Regions from separate parts of the Homo sapiens genome. Here region 1 is linked to region 2. The links come from fine-mapping of genetic effects on gene expression. Tissue or cell type: testis. Region 2 holds a variant in brackets; the other region holds the start of a gene. All regions are shown on one strand. Distances are between the middles of the regions.

Region 1 (8,000 bases), 41 kb after region 2:
AAAGAAAGGAAAGAGAAAGGGAAAGAGGGAGGAAGGAAGGAAGGAGAGAAGGAGGGAGGGAGCCCCTGAGCTCTCACCTAACACCCCCCAACCGCTGTTTGCTGGGTTCTATCCCAGGTCCAAGGGGTACAGGAGAGGGGAGGGACCCCCTGGGAGACATGAGGGGAGGAGACCCCGCGCTGAGGGGGCGTGAATGAGGGGAGATGGAGGCTCACCCGTGGGTGTCCCCACCCTGCCTCAGTCTCCCTCCATGCCCCCAAGTCACCGCCCTCCCTCCCTCCTTCCCACCAGCTCCCTTGAGGATGGGGAAGGAGCAGAGGTTGGCCACAGAGACAAGAGGTCTCCGAGACGGTCCCCTGCCATGGCCAGCCCGGTGGCAGAGGGCAGGCAGGGCTTCTTGCGTTCCAGGACTTGGCTCAAGCCTGAGGCAGGCATTCTTAGCTCCATCGCTCCTTCAGGAAAACTGAGGCTTAAACAAACGGTCACTGGCCTAGGCCCCGGGACAGGGCTGAGCACTAGCCCAAGCCTCAAGCCTGCTCCTCCCATTCCTGGCAAGGAGAACGGCAGGAGCTGTGGAAGGAGGGGCTGGAGAGCGTGGTGAGTGGGCGCTGGGCATGCAGAGAGCAGGCGGGCAGGAGGCAGAGCTGGGAGCAGGCCCGCTGCAGCTTCCTGGAGGGGCAAGAGGGAGCTGGGGTCTGAGGAAGACAGGAGGGGGCCAGGCCCCAGCCCGACGTACCGGTGCAGACCAGCCCCGCATCCTCGCTGTGGTCACAGTTGCTCCGGCCCCAGGGGCTTCGGGGGCAGTCTCGGAGGGCCTGTTCTCCTCCTCCACACCCCACATCGTCCATCCACACGGGCCCTGCACCAGGCCCGAATCTGGCACCGCCGGGGGCAGCCAGCGCCCCCCCACAGCCCAGTTCCCGGCAGGCTACAGCAGCGTCGCGCAGGTCCCAGCCATCGTCACATACGGTGCCCCAGCGCCCGCCGTGCCAGACCTCCAGGCGTCCGGCGCACCTGTGGGGGCCAGAGACCAGGCGCAGCCGCTCTGTGGGGTGAGCAGGGAGGGGACGGTGTGGCCAGTGAGAAATGATTCAAACACCCCTTCCTCGATTTCCACCTGGGGAAACAGGCCTGAGGGAGCGGTGGCCTGAGATCTGTCCGCCGGCAGCCCGTGAAGAGGTGAGTCCACGACCTGAGCGGGCCAGGACACCTGGGCCTCCTGACAGGGCAGGAAGAAGAGGGGAGACCAGGCCTGGCCGTCTAAATCCCCGGGGGAGGGACGCGGGGAACACTGGGATCCCTCCAGGGCCCCGGCTAAGGAGAGGGCGCCCGCAGGTCCTCAGTTTTTCTGGGCCCTGGGCCTCACAGCAACCAGCCTTGGGGTCGGGGGAGCCTGCAGGGAGCTTACCTTGGCGGGGGGCTCCTGTCGTCAGCAGAGGGGCCCGGGTGGACTTGGCCTGCTTGGGCCGGGGGCTCTTCTTCCGGGAGGCGTTCTGGGGGTTCCCAGCTGGGCGGGGGGCTGGGAGTGGAGACAGCCAGGGGTCAGGAGCTGAGCCCCTCATCCTTCCTCCCACCTGGGGGCCCAGGCCTCCGTCTCTGAGGGTCTGAAGTGATGGAGGACTCCCTAGGCTATGAAGGAGACGGGGCGGGGCAGGGGGCGGGCTGTGTGTCCCCTGGGAGTTCATACTGCAGAGGTCCCTCTCCCCTCGGTGGGGGCAGGAGGGCACGCTGGGTGGGGGTTGGCAGGGCAGTCCCTCTCCCCTCGGGGGGGGCAGGAGGGCACGCTGGGTGGGGGTTGGCAGGGCAGTCCCCTGGGCTCACCATGTGTCACCAGGGGCTCCTCCGTGCTGGGGCTCAGCTCCAGCAACAGCCCTGGCCAGGGAGCCCCATCCAGGGGAGATGTTGAGTCGTCCCTGGAGTTAGCCACACGCTGACCTGCGGCGGGGGGGCAGGGACAGAAGCTATGAGGAGAGGAGGGGAATCCAGGCCATTTGGGTCCCTGGAAGAGGGAGTTAGCCACCTGGCTTTGGAGGGGATGGGAGGTTGGGTGTCTCTGAACTGCTGAACACTCAGACTTGCTGGGGCTAAGGACTTGGGGTTCCTGGGTCATCTCCAAAGGAGCTCCCCCTGAAGGAGCAGCCAGGGTGTCCTCACCTGCGCAGACGACGCCCGCGTCCTCCTCGTGGGAGCAGATGTGGGCCTTCCAGCCCCGGTGGTGGCAGAGGCCCAGCTGCCCCTCGTTGCCCCGGCAAGCCAGCTCGCTGAGCCACACAGGCCCTGCCCCCTCCCCGAAGAAGGCGCCTCCCGGGGCGGCCAGTGCCCCTCCGCAGCCCAGCTGCCGGCAGGCCACGGCGGCATCGCGCAGGTCCCAGCCGTCATCACACACGGTGCCCCAGCGCCCGCCATGCCAGACCTCCAGGCGGCCAGCGCACCCATGGGGGCCATCGGCCAGGCGCAGGCGCTCTGAGGGTTGGAGGAATGGCTGTGACTGGGGAGGGGCATCCTGGGGGCCCCAAGGCCAGGGCAACTGTAGGGGCAGGTGGCTGTCCTGCAGGTACTGTCTGTAGGCCAGTGGCCCTGCTCACTGGCCCCTGGGCCCAGACTCCTGGGTGCTCAGAGAGATGCGGCCAGACACCTGGGGGATTCCCTTGCGGAGCTGGGGCCAAGGTCACAGTGGAATTCGGATGGGCCGGGGACCCAGTGGGGGTGAGGCCAGGCCTGGATGGGCAGAAGGGGGAGGCCTGGGGGGGGGGGCGGGCAGATGGGAGGAGTCTGGGCACTTACCAACAGCCTGGATCCCCACCAGGGCCGCTGGAAGGGAGGGCGGAGGGTGGGGCAGTGTGAGGGGCAGGCCGGGGGTGGCCCTTTCTCCAGCGCAGGCCCCTCATCTTGAATACCCCAACACACACACACACACACACACACACACACACACACACACACATGGGCTTGGCTAAAGGTCAGATGTCTGGGAGATCCCCCGCAGGGTCAGGGCTGGGGGGCGGGCAGGGGGCAGGTCCCTTGGGCTTCTGGGCTGGCAGAAGGCTGGGCAGATTGAGCAGGGATCCTCAGAAGGGATGTCAGGGTATGCAGGAGCACCAGCGACCAGTCCCGGAAGTTTGAGTCCCTAAACTGGACAAGCTAAGGGGTCAGAGGTGGGGGCCTAGGCCCCCCGAGTCCCCAAGGAGAATGGATCACTCACCAAGGAGGCAGGCCAAGACCCTCATGGTTGCAGCCAGGGCAGGGGATGGGGTGAAAGGGGAAGGAGAGCGGGGAGAGAAGAGGAGGAGGCAGCTGGGGAGAGAGGGAGGGAGGGAAGTGCCTGCTGGAGGCGCCCAGGCCCGAGGAGGAGCAGGCAGGGCTGGACGCTTTGCCAGGAGGAAGAAAGAGGCTGCAGGGAGGCGGCAGGGGACGGTGGGGGGGAGGGGGGGCGGGAGGGGGCTGGCCGTCTGCTGAGGCATGGGGGGGAGGGGGGTGGCGGGCGGGAGGGAGGGTGTCCAACTGCAGACACCCACACGGGAGATGGAGACGACGGCCAGGCAGGCTCCAGCCAGCAAAGTGCTGTGCCCAGAGATGCTTAGGGGGTGGCCGGCTGCAGGAAGGCACAGGACAGGGGTTGGGGGACGTGTGCGGGGGGGGCGCAGCATGAGCGGGAGGGGCGCCCACCTGCTGTCTCCCCTCTTGTCTGGTCAGGGAAATCCAGTGAGACCACTGCTAGGGTTGGGGGCTGGGCAGACCTGGGGTTCTTGGTGCAGCAGCAAGAAGATTTGCAGCCAGACACCAGGAGGGACTTCCTGGGTTAGGAAAAGAGACTGAAAGACCCGGCCCTCCAGTCCTCCCACTCACTGGTGGATCTGAGTGTGAAGCCCCCAGTCCCCAGCTGAGAGAGGAGAGGTTGAACTTCACTGTCCCAGAGGGAGCTGGGGTCGGGGGATAAGCAGCACAAGGGTCAAGGCTTGGGAAGGGGAGGGGCTCCACACACTCTTCCACACACTCACACACACACACACACACCCCACTGCCTGCACACCAGGCAGCTGTGAGGCGGAAAAAATTCGGTAATGGGGAGCGTGACTCAGAAGGGCTGGCAGGGCCTCGGGCTGCCCCTGAGCTCACAGCCTCCCCTTCTCCCAGTCCAGCACCGTCCCCCAACAATTAATGTTAACTGGGGAAAGGAGAAGCCAGACAGAAATGGGCGGGGGTGTCCGGAGACAGACTGGGAAAGCCATCAGAGAAGAGACAGGCACACAGCGGTTTCAGGCTTTATTAACAAACGGTGTAAAAAACCAGACGGATCTGGAGGAAGGGACAGGGCTGCCCGTCTCAGCTCTCAACCTTCCCAGAGAGGGGCCAGGCCTGGCAGCCCTGTGCGTCGCGCCTCCTAAGCAGTCAACCTTGTCCCCTCCAAGGACAGGCATCTGACCCAATCCAGGTCCCAGGGAGGCGGAGTCGCAAACCCTAACTCTGGGGTGTATTCTGCTCGGCCTCCTCTCCCCCTCCCCAGATAGCTCTCCCAGCCTGGGGCACGGACAGCACAGACTTTGCAGACATCACCCGGGGAGGTTTCTCAGTGCAGACAGGAGCTGAGGTAGGGGTTGGAGAGGCTGACCTCGAGAGGCCCCCGAGGGCCAGGAAGGAAAAGGAGTCATTCCACTCTGAGAAGCTCAAACACAACAGACTTCACACTGCTGACGGGTGGACAGAGGCCAGGCTCCTCCCCTCGGCAGGCCTCTGTTTCTGGGCCCAGGGTGGTTGAGGACTCACTGAGGGAGAGCAGGTAAAAGAACCCGCAGACAGTAGGCGATCATCAGGTGCTGGCGCCCCTCCCTCCTCCCCTGCCCTGGCTGTCAGTCTGTAGCTTCACAGGTCTTTGCTGAATTCCCTCACCAGCGTGTAGCCCAGGCAGCCCCAGCCCCCCTCGGCCTGGTAGCCACAGCCCTCCAGCATCCCTCCCACCCCCCAGGCGGCCACAGCCACGGGGACCACGAGCCGGGCCCGGGGCTCCCCCATGCCCCCAGCCCAGGCCCGAGCCCGGGCCTCCGCGAAGGCCAGCAGCCTCCTGCCCACGCCCCGGCGGCGGTGCCAGCGAGAGACAGACAGGCGGGTGACCCGGGCCCCGTCCCCTGCATTTGTGCCAGGGGCCAGAGCCAGGACCCCACACACGTCACCGGAGCCCCGCACGGCCACCCAGGGGCCCCCCAGGCCACCCGGCGGAGGCAGCGAGCCCCATCGGGCCCGCAGGCCCAGCTTCACGGCGGCCACAGCCAGGAACACCGGCAGGAGGAGGGCCAGGGCGAAGGAAGCCAGGACAAAGCGCAGGCCGCTGCTGGCCGCCGCCAGGAGGAGCAGGGCCGGCGGCCGTGTCAAGGCATGGAGGGCCACGCGGTTTTCCGTGTCCTTCACGCCGGCCTGTGGGCAGGAGGGGTGGCTCAGCCATCCGAAACGCTAGGGCCTCCTGGACAAAGAGAGGAGGTAGACCCTGCCCGGGGCGGGGTGAGAGCTCCCAAATGGGAAGGGAAGGCAGCACAGTCCGATGTTCAGTGTGGCACACTGGGTATGGAGTGAATGAATGAACGAGAGCGAATGATGGATGGATGAGTGAATTAGGAGCTGTGGGGGCACTCAATTCAGTAGCAATGCCGCAGTGAGGCCCCAGGGAAGTAAGGACAGGGAGGTTGCCTCAGGCTGGAGTGGAGGCTGGAGGGAGGCTGCTGGGCTAGGTTGGGGTGCTGGGCTGTGCTTTGAAGAGTTGGGGTCCGAGGCACAGAGCTGGCTGTTGTGCTGGCGTGCACAGCCGACTGGAGATGGGAGACCAGGGAGGGCGTTGGTGCTGGGGTCCCAGTAGGGCTGGGGGGGTGAGCCCCCACCTGCCACACCTGCTGTGGTTTTCAGCAGCAGGGCGGCTGAGGCTCAGGAGGAAAAGATCCCGCTCCAGGGGTCCAGGCTGGCTCAGGTGGGTGGGAGGGGGTGGCTGAATCCACTTGCAATTCCCCCACTGCAGCCACTCCCAGGCCCCCTGGGGCCCCTGCCTCTCACCTTCAGCATCTCCAGCACCAGGGGCTTCTCATCTTCCCTCATCTCCCGCACTGACAGGTGGCTGGGGGCCATGGCAACCCCCAGGCCCCGGCCCCCCAGAAGGGAGCTGGCGTCGTGCACCTGGTGAGAACATAAGTAGGTCAGCGTCAGGGGGGCACCTCTGTCCCCAAAGCTCCCCCGAGGGGTAGGGAGCAGCAACGGCACTTCCCAGATCAGGACACTGAGAACCCTCGGGGCCCCCAAGCGAGGATCTCGGCAGGACAGGCGCCCCCCACAATACTCAGCGACCTTGCTAAAGTCTCCCGGGATCCCCCCTCCCCCGTATTATTCAGCGATCTACACTCCCAAACGCGCTGCGGACGCCAACACTGCAGCACGGGGCTCCCTCCCAGGCACTGGGGTCCACGAACACCCTCCCCACATGCCAGAGAACGGACCACGCTCGCTCCACCCCGGTCCCCAGCGCCCCCTCCCCCACAGTCGTCCCCGTCCCGCGCCACAAGAACAAGGACCAGCAAGCACCTGCACCGGTCGCCTTTGGTCCTTCGACAAGGTTTCGGGAGCGGGTCTGGAAGGGGGTCGCGGGCGGAAGTGACGTCAGACCGCGCGCGGTGGGGCGGGGCGGCGCCCGCTCCGGGCCGTAGCAACCGTTGCTAAGCTCCCCGGAGGGCGGGCTGGGAGGAACCGAGCTGTGACCCTGCGGAGGGCCGGGAAGCGACCTCTCCTATCCCTAGAGAAGGAGCAACGGGGAAAGGGGACCTGGGGAAGAACGGGAGCGGAAGCCGGCAGGAGACGGGCGGCGGGCTGGGGACCAGCGCGAGCTCCCGCCCCACGTTCCCTCGTTGCTGAGCAACCTGAGCGCCGGGCGGCGACGCCAGCGCGTGGATTCTCATCCGTGCCGGGGCCTTCGCGGGAGGAGCCGGCCACGCTCAGCATCCTGGCGCCCGACTCCCCCATCCCCAGGGACCCCACTCCACCCACGGGGCGCCCGGGGTCGCAGAACCCTTCCGCATAAGGATCCCCCTACTTCTCACACGAGGGGGGCAGCGGGGCGACCTACAGTGAACAAGTAGCACTCCCTGGAGTCTGATGTCACCACCTCCCCACTATAATGACCCCTGCGGCCTTTTTTGGTTTCAGGACAGGGGAACTGAGCCCTACGTAGTGGCTGGCCCCAGGATGCAGAACAAGCCATCTGCGACCCAGGACGCAAGACTTAAGACTCCACGCTCCCAGGCGGGGGCTAGGACCATGACTTTGCCCCCTTCCCTCCCCCCAGGAAAACAAAACACAGGCGGGGAGACTCGGGTCTTTATTAGCAAGCCCAGCCTGCGGCACCCTGCCCCGCCCCGGCTGGCAGTGAGTCGGGGTCTCTGTGCGGGGCGGGAGGGGAATCACTGCCTCTCCTCAAAACGTGTGCACCAGCTGGACTGCGGGTAGAGTCTGGACAATCTGGATGGAGGGCAGGCCCTGAGGGGTCATAACACCAGGCCCAGCTCCTGCGGGGACCACTTGCACCATCTGGGAGGCTGGAGCCCCGGGGAGCCCCGCGGGGCCCGAGGCTGGGCCTGACGGCGGTGGGGCCAGGAGCTGCAGCGTGGCGGTGCCTCCTCCAGTGTTGCTGCTGTCCAGCAGCTCAGTGGCTGGGGCGCTGCGGATGATGAGGAGTTTCTGTCCGGGTGGGCCGGTGGCAGGCGGCTCCGTCAGCCCAGGAGGAAGTGTTTCTACCTCCTGTACGCAGAGTCGAGTCTGTTCGCCATCGGCCCCGCTCAGCACCAGCACGCTCTGCAAGCCCTCGTCCGTCTGGAGTGTCTCAAAGAGGACATCCTGGACCACACCAGTGCTGGCCTCGCCATCCCCCGCCTCCCCGGGGCCCGGGCCAGTGAGCAACTCCTCAGCTGCCCCGCTCTGAACAACCAGCAGGTTGGGTGCCTCAGTAGCCACAGCTCCCCCACTGGAATTGG
Region 2 (8,000 bases):
TAGCAGGAATTTCTGGTGTCAGGGAAAAAAATCAGCTTGGTGTGCAATTAGCCCAGTGGCGGTGCACAACTGTAGTCCCAGCTACTCAGGGAGCTTGGGCAGGAGAATCGCTTGAGCCCGGGAGGCGGAGGTTGCAGTGAGCCATGATTGTGCTGCTGCACTCCAGCCTGGACGACAGAGAAAGACCCTGTCTTAAAAAAAAAAAAAAAAAGGGCGGGTGTAGTGGCTCACACCTGTAATCCCAATGCTTCAGGAGGCTGAGGTGGGTCATCACCTGAGGCCAGGAGTTCAAGACTAGCCTGACCAACATGGTGAAACCCCATCTCTACTAAAAATACAAAAATTAGCTAGGTATGGTGGCAGGTGCCCGTAATCCCAGCTACTCGGGAGGCTGAGGCAGGAGAATCGCTTGAACCCAGGAGGCAGAGGTTGCAGTGAGCCGAGATGACGCCACTGCACTCCAGTCTGGACAACAAGCGTGAAACTGCATCTCAAAAAAAAAAAAAAAAAAAAAAAAGGAAGACATCAGAAGTTCCTTCGGGGAGTTTAGCTTCTAGGAAGTCGTTTCCACACGTGACAAAATCCACAATTCCTAATTGGCTTTCTTACCCAGTGTGGGTTACCTTTTCCCCAGGTGTCTCAAAAATACCTTTTTGCCTCAAACACGAGTTTGCTGTCATGAGAAGCCAAACGAGGTCATTGGAGAAATTTCATGGTATCCCTCCATCTCCATGGCTATAGACTTGTAAGAAAGCAAGGTAGAAATTCACCACGTACTGTTATTATTTTATTTAATTTTTTACAGATGCCACCATGCCCAGCTAATTATTTTTTTAATTTTTTTTTCACTCTGTCCCCCAGGCTGGAGTGCAGTGGCGCAATCTCGGCTCACTGCAACCTCTGCCTCCTGGGTTCAAGCAATTCTCCTGCCTCAGCCGGCCAAGTAGCTGGGATTACACGCATGCGCCACCACACCCAACTAGATTTTTATGTTTTTAGTAGAGAAGAGGTTTCACCATATTGACCAGGCTGGTCTTGAACTCCTGACATCAAGCAATCCACCCGCCTCGGTCTCCCAAAGTACTGGGATTACAGGCGTGAGCCACAGTGCCCGGCCTTTTTAAAACTTTTTTTAGAGGTAGGGTCTCACTGTGTTGTCCGAGCTGGTCTCAAACTCCTGGCCTCAACGGATCCTCCCACCTCGGTCTCTGAAAGCGCTGGGATCGCAGGCCTGAGCCCCCAGCTGGTCCCCAGCGTGCTATAACTATTGGTACCGCTGGTGATGCTTGGGTGGCCATGCTGTTAGGATGGGCTCAGGAGGGAGGTGGGAGTTGGAGGAGGTGGAGATGGTCTATGGGAAAGAGTCCAAGCTGAGGGGCCATTGAGGGGACCACAGGGGAACAGAGCAGCTGGCCCAGGTGGCCCTTGGCTGCTGCACGCCTCCCATACCTGTCCCTGCTGCCCCAGGCACACCCCTGGCACTGAAGCAGCTCCCGAAACCCCGCACGTCCCTCCGTGGCTTCCTGTACGAGTTCTGTGTGGGGCTCTCGCTGGGCGCGCACTCAGCCATCGTGACGGCCTACGGCATTGGCATCGAGTCGGCACACTCCTACAGCTTCCTGACGGAGCCCGTCCTGCACGGGGACCTCATGGCCTTCATCCAGCCCAAGGTGCGTAGGCAGACCCCAGGCCGCCTCCGAGTGCCTCACCGGCCTCCCAGGAACGTCCTGAGCAGCCTGGGCCGCAGGAGCCACAGCCACTGCGTTGGGCCTCCCTGGGCCTCCCCTACCCCCCGGAGGCCCCTCGTGGGGCCCACAGGACTCGTGGAGTTGTTAGGCCTCTTTGGAGTTCATAGACATCACAGAACTCACACGATACACCATGGAGACTCACCAGGCAGCCCCAGGTCACACTGGACCCCAATCAAGTCACAGGCCCTACAGGGTCACCCGAGGCCCCGCTTAACCTACAGGTCCTACAGGGTCACCCCAGACCCCACTAAACCCACAGGCCTCACAGGTCACACTAGGCCACACTAAACCCACAGGCCTCACGGGTCACACTAAGCCACACTAAACCCACAGGCCTCACAGGTCACACTAGGCCCCACTAAACCCACAGGCCTCACAGGTCACACTAGGCCTCACGGGGTCACCCTAGGCCACACTAAACCCACAGGCCTCACGGGTCACACTAGGCCACACTAAACCCACAGGCCTCACGGGTCACACTAAGCCACACTAAACCCACAGGCCTCACAGGTCACACTAGGCCCCACTAAACCCACAGGCCTCACAGGTCACACTAGGCCTCACGGGGTCACCCTAGGCCACACTAAACCCGCAGGCCTCACAGGTCACACTAGGCCTCACAGGGCCAACTATTCACCGTCTTCCTTACCGGCCTCCTTGGCGTCCTGGGCCTGCTTCCTGGGTCTCGGTTGCCTTCCGTGGCCCCGGGGCACTGGGCCCTGACCCCTCTCCCCGCAGGTGGGCCTCCCGCAGCCCGCGGTGCACCGCTGCGCCGCCCAGCTGGCCTCCGCCCTGGAGTACATCCACGCCCGCGGCCTGGTGTACCGGGACCTGAAGCCGGAGAACGTCCTGGTGTGCGACCCGGCCTGCCGGCGCTTCAAGCTGACCGACTTCGGCCACACGAGGCCTCGCGGGACGCTGCTGCGCCTGGCCGGGCCGCCCATCCCCTACACGGCCCCCGAGCTCTGCGCGCCCCCGCCGCTCCCCGAGGGCCTGCCCATTCAGCCCGCCCTGGACGCCTGGGCGCTGGGCGTCCTGCTCTTCTGCCTCCTCACGGGCTACTTCCCCTGGGACCGGCCCCTGGCCGAGGCCGACCCCTTCTACGAGGACTTCCTCATCTGGCAGGCGTCGGGCCAGCCCCGGGACCGCCCTCAGCCCTGGTTCGGCCTGGCCGCCGCGGCCGACGCGCTTCTGCGGGGGCTGCTGGACCCTCACCCCCGAAGGAGGAGCGCTGTGATCGCCATCAGGGAGCACCTGGGGCGCCCCTGGAGGCAGCGGGAGGGCGAGGCGGAGGCAGTGGGAGCGGTGGAAGAGGAGGCTGGGCAGTGAGGAGGCCCCGGGGGATGCAGAAAGGGAAGCCGCCCCACCCGAGGCCCCCAAGGCCAACGGCTTTTGGTGTCTCCTCGGTGTGTTTTCATCCATGGGGCTTGGGATTCCCCTCGGCGTCCTCCTCCTCTCTCCTCTCTGCAGGCTGCATTCCTCCCTTGGTCCATGAGGGCCTCAGACCTCTGCATGTCCCTCCATACCTGCCGCCACCTTCCCCAGGGTCTCAGACCTCCGCGTGGCTCTCGGTACCTGCCGCCACCTTCCCCAGGGCCTCTGCACTTGCTGTTTGCTCAGGGCACTTTAGGCTCATCCCCTCACCCCTCGCATTTTTATTTTTTTTGAGACAGGGTCTCGCTCTGTCTCCCAGGCTGGAGTGCAGTGGTGCTATCTCTGCTCACTGCAGTCTCAAAATCCACAGCTCAAGCAATCTTCCTGCCTCAGCCTCCTGAGTAGCTGGGACTACAGGCATGCGCCACCACGCTAGGCTAATTTTTAACTTTTTTTAGAGATGGAGGGGTCTTGCTATGTTGCCCAGGTGGGTGTCAACTCCTGGCCTCAAACAATCCTCCTGCCTCAGCCTCCTGAGTAGCTGGGACTACAGGCATGCGCCACCACGCTAGGCTAATTTTTAACTTTTTAAAAAGATGGTTGGGGGCGGGTCTTGCTGTGTTGCTCAGGCTAGTCTCAAATTCCTGGCCTGGAGCGAGTCTCCCACCTCGGCCTCCCGCAGTGCTGGGATTACAGCTGCGCGTTGTAAATGCTTACTGTCTGCCTCCTCATCCCCCCACTCTGCTGTTGCTCTAGGACGTGTATCCTCTTCTAACTGCATGGCTTATTTTTTGTGGTTATTTTGTGAGCTCCTGGAGTCGGGGGTCTTTGCCGCCTTCCGTCTGCTGACAGACCCCATGTACTCAGCGATGGCCTGCAGCAGGGATCAGGAAATGTCTGTTAAATAAATTAGCCTGTCTGGTGTGGCGCAGCCTCCCCTCCGTCCCTGTCCTCCCGCCGTCCTCTCTCCTTCTCTCCGGCCGGGTCTCCCTCCCACCTGGCACCACCCTCTCTGTGATGTGTTTTGCCTTCTCTCGCCCCAGCCACTCTGCAAATAAACTCCATCTGGCGCTCAGATCCCAGTGCTGCTGCGAGTCTGTCTGCTCGGGAACGAGAAGGGGAGTGTGCATCAGAGGACGTGTGGAGGAGGGAGGGGGGTGCAGAGGTAGAGAGACAGAGACACAGAGAAACAGCAGGGAGAGATGGAGAGAGACAGAGACACACACACAGAGAAACAGAGACGGGGGAGAGAAAAAGAAGGAGAGATGCAGATAGAAAAACAGACACACAAAAAGAAACAGGTGGAGGAAGAGAGAGAGAGAAACAGACACAGACACATACAGAGATAGAAAGAGAAACAGACAGAGACAGAGAGAGAAACAGAGATGGAGAGAGACAAACACAGGAAGAGAGACACAGACAGAAAAGAGACAGAGAGGAAGGGAGAGAGAGAGACGGAGGGGCGAGGATGAGCTGCCTGAGCTCATGGTGCTGCCTGAGCCTCCCTGCTGTCCTGCAGGGGGTCCTGATGGCAGAGCTGTGGGCAGGAGGGAGTGAGCCACCTGCTTCTAAGAATCCCTCTCCTTTACCAAACCAAAGTTTGTGTGCTAACAATGGAATGAAAGATATGGTTCTCAAAGCTTCCATCAAGGAACTCTATATGCATGTGTGCATGAGTGTGTGTGAGTGTGCATGTGTGTGAGTGTATGCGTGTGCATATGAGTGTGAGAGTGCACATCTGTGCAAGTGTGAATGTCGTGAGCATGAGTGTG[T/C]GCCAGTGAGTGTGCACGTGTCTGAGTGTGAGTGTGCGTGCATGCGAGTGTGCACATTGTGCGAGTGTGTGCGCGTGTGTGCAATTGTGAGTGTGTGCATGTGTGTGCAAATGTGTGCAAGTCAGTAATGTGTGAGCATGAGTATGTGTGCCAGTGTGCGTGTGTCCATGAGTGTGAGTGTGCATGTGTCCATGAGTATGCGTATGTGTGCCAGTGTGCATGTGTGTCCATGAGTGTGAGTGTGCATGTGTCCATGAGTATGCGTATGTGTGCCAGTGTGCATGTGTGTCCATGAGTGTGAGTGTGCATGTGTGTCCATGAGTATGTGTGTGTGCGTGAGTGTGCACATGTGTGTGAATGTGTGTGAATGTGTGTGTGCAAGTGTGCACATATGTGCAAGTGTGAATGTCCTGTGTGCATGAGTGTGTGTGCGATTGAGTGTATACATATGCATATGTGAGTACAAGTGTGCACATGTGTGCAAGTGTGAATGTCATACGTGAGCATGTGCCAGTGTTCATCTGTGTCCACGAGTATGTGTGTGCATGTGTGTGCAAGTGTGAACGAGTGTGCACATGTGTGCACATGTAAATTCGTGGGTGAGCATGAGTGTGTACGCCAGTGACTGTGCGTGTGTGTCCATGACTTGCGTGTGTGTGCACATGTGTGCAAGTATGAATGTGTGTGCGTGCGTGTGAGTACAAGTGTGCACATATGTGCAAGTGTGACTGTCCTGTGCATGAGTGTGTGTGAGTGTGTGCGTGTGTGTGCGATTGAGTATGCATATGCATAAGTGAGTACAAGTGTGCACATGTGTGCAAGTGTGTGTCATGTGTGAGCATGAGTATGTGTGCCAGTGAGTATTCATGTGTCCACGAGTATGTGTGTGTGCATGTGTGCAAGTGTGAATGTGTGTGCATGTATGAGTGTGCACATGTGTGCACATGTAAATTCGTGGGTGAGCATGAGTGTGTACGCCAGTGAGTGTACATGTGTAAGCATAAGTGTGTGTGCACGTGTGTGCAAGTGTGAATGTCATGTGTGAGCATGAGTATGTGTACGCCAGTGTGAGTGTGCATGTGTGAGCATGTGTGTGCACGTGTGTGAATGCATATGCATGGAAAGGAGGGAGGATGGCGTTGTGTGTCTCACTGCACGTGGATGATAATACAGCTTTGTGCCTGCTGTGTCTGCATGAGCATCTGAGCTTGTGTGTGCTGACGTACTTGTGTGTATGGGGAGTGAATGTGACTTGCTATGTGTGGACATCGGATCCGTGTGTGTGCGCGCATATGCCTGTCAATGTGTAGCCAGGGTGGGAAGGTCACGCAGGCGCCGCGGGCGGGCGCCGCCTGGGCCTTCTCTCCTTCGCACCTTCCTCCTCTCTCCCCCGCCCCTGCTTGGCAGCTGCCCTGTTTGCAAACACTGTCTCTTCCTCTCCGCGCCCTCCTTGGCCTCAGGCCCAGAGCAAGGCTACAACTCGGAGCTGGATCGTGTGTCACGCACTCCCTGGCCCCTGCATACCCCGCAGGGCGCCTGCTGTGGCCACCGAGGTGTTGCCTGGAGCGGGGCTGACAGCAGGTGTGCTCCTGTGGAGTGACCCCAAGGAGCCTTCGAATCCAGGTTCAAGCCATAGAGTTGGGGCCTCTGACCTGGACAATCCGGGTGAGCTTCCTGGAGTAGGGATCATTGGGGAGAAGAGGGGAGTCAACAACGCGGGGGGTGGGGGGTGGGGGTGGAATATATCAAGACTTCCTGCCCCTTTATCTGTGAATCTGAAATAGCCTGAGCTGTTAGGCCAAGAATGTGTCCCAAAAAGCTGGAGGTGGCTGGGATGCGGCATGCTGGGTGGGAGTGGAGACTGGGCAGGGGGCAGGGGGGCACGAGGTGTTGATTGCTGGCGGCAGCTGAGGATTATCTGAAAGGTGATAATGACCAGCCTGTCATGGGTGAAGCACAGGGGAGGACATAAACTTCCCAGGAATGGCCTGACCCCGGCAGGCAGGCAGGCAGGGACGACACTAATTAAGTAATGCTTAGTGCTGGCCGGAGGCTGAACCCCAACCAGGGATCTCAGAGGCCACGTCTGCTCCCCGACCTGTCCCCAAGATGGTGGCGGGGGTCCCTGGGCTCTGCCCATCTCACGCACGGGGCAGCCAGGTTCCCGCCGTGCCCACACACCGGGCCGGGGGGCAAAGCCTGGAGTCGAACCCAGCTGGGCTCCAGCACATGGTCCCTGCTGTTAACCTGCAGGGATGTCCTGCCGTGCTCAGCGGGAGGAGGGGCTTGGGGGCACGGGGGTGTGGGTGAGTGGGCGGGTGGGGGTGAGGGTGTGTGTGCGGGTGATTGTGAGTGTGCATGAGGGAGTAAGCTTGTGAGCGTGAGCGAGCTGTATGTGTGGGGGTGAACATAAACGTTTGATTGAGTACAGGTGTAGATGTGAGTGTAAGGATGAGTGTGAGATTATGAGACTATGTGTGAGAGATCAAGACACTGTATGAGAAAGCATGCACGTGTGTGAAAGAATATAAAAGCATGGGCGGGCGCGGTGGCTCATGCCTTGAATCCCAGCACTTTGGGAGGCTGAGGTGGGACGATCACTTGAGGCCAGGAGTTTGAGACTAGCCTGGGCAACTAGTTTATTGAGAGTTTGTATTATCTTTTTTGCTTCTTTCTTTCTTTCTTGTTTTGTTTTGTTTTTGTTTTTTGTTTGTTTGAGACAGAGTTTTGTTTTCGTCACCCCGGCTGGAGTGCAGTGGCACGATCTCGGCTCACTTCAACCTCCGCCTCCTGGGTTCAAGTGATTCTCCTGCCTCAGCCTCCAGAGTAACTGGGACTACAGGCACCCGCTACCACGCCTGGCTAATTTTTGCATTTTTAGTAGAGACAGGGTTTCACCATGTTGGCCAGGCTGGTCTCAAACTCCTGACGTCAAGTGATCCTCCTTCCTTGGCCTCCCAAAGTGCTGGTATTACAGGTGTGAGCCACCGTACCTGGCCTTAGTAATTTTGCTTTCAAGTATCATTATTTAAGAAATACATTTTGTAAGGCTATAGCTGTCATATATAGTGATTCCTCTGATGGATCTGGACAAAGTCAATTG

What was found. PIP is the estimated chance that this variant, and not a neighbour inherited with it, causes the effect.
Region 1: SSC5D starts here. The variant in region 2 is fine-mapped to the expression of SSC5D in testis (GTEx, PIP 0.95).

The regions. Positions count from the first base shown.
Region 1 is chr19:55,483,817-55,491,816 of GRCh38, reverse strand. It overlaps SSC5D (scavenger receptor cysteine rich family member with 5 domains), which reads right to left and starts at 3,381. Exons shown (of 14, transcript NM_001144950.2): 1 at 3,203-3,381; 2 at 2,785-2,811; 3 at 2,155-2,463; 4 at 1,822-1,935; 5 at 1,409-1,519; 6 at 737-1,045. The coding sequence starts at 3,227. It overlaps ZNF628 (zinc finger protein 628), which reads right to left. Exons shown (of 3, transcript NM_033113.3): 3 at 7,330-8,000. The coding sequence ends at 7,444. NAT14 (N-acetyltransferase 14 (putative)) reads right to left here and starts at 6,629. Exons shown (of 3, transcript NM_020378.4): 1 at 6,559-6,629; 2 at 6,037-6,156; 3 at 4,251-5,409. The coding sequence starts at 6,108. The coding sequence ends at 4,861. RefSeq lists an enhancer at 5,990-6,319 and a silencer at 6,420-6,839.
Region 2 is chr19:55,524,813-55,532,812 of GRCh38, reverse strand. It overlaps SBK2 (SH3 domain binding kinase family member 2), which reads left to right. Exons shown (of 4, transcript NM_001370096.2): 3 at 1,468-1,670; 4 at 2,490-4,202. The coding sequence ends at 3,080. Among named protein-coding and RNA genes, the nearest start is that of SBK2, 8.3 kb to the left of the region's middle. RefSeq lists enhancers at 1,107-1,607, 5,782-6,656. The variant T/C (reference allele first, on the strand shown) is at 4,898.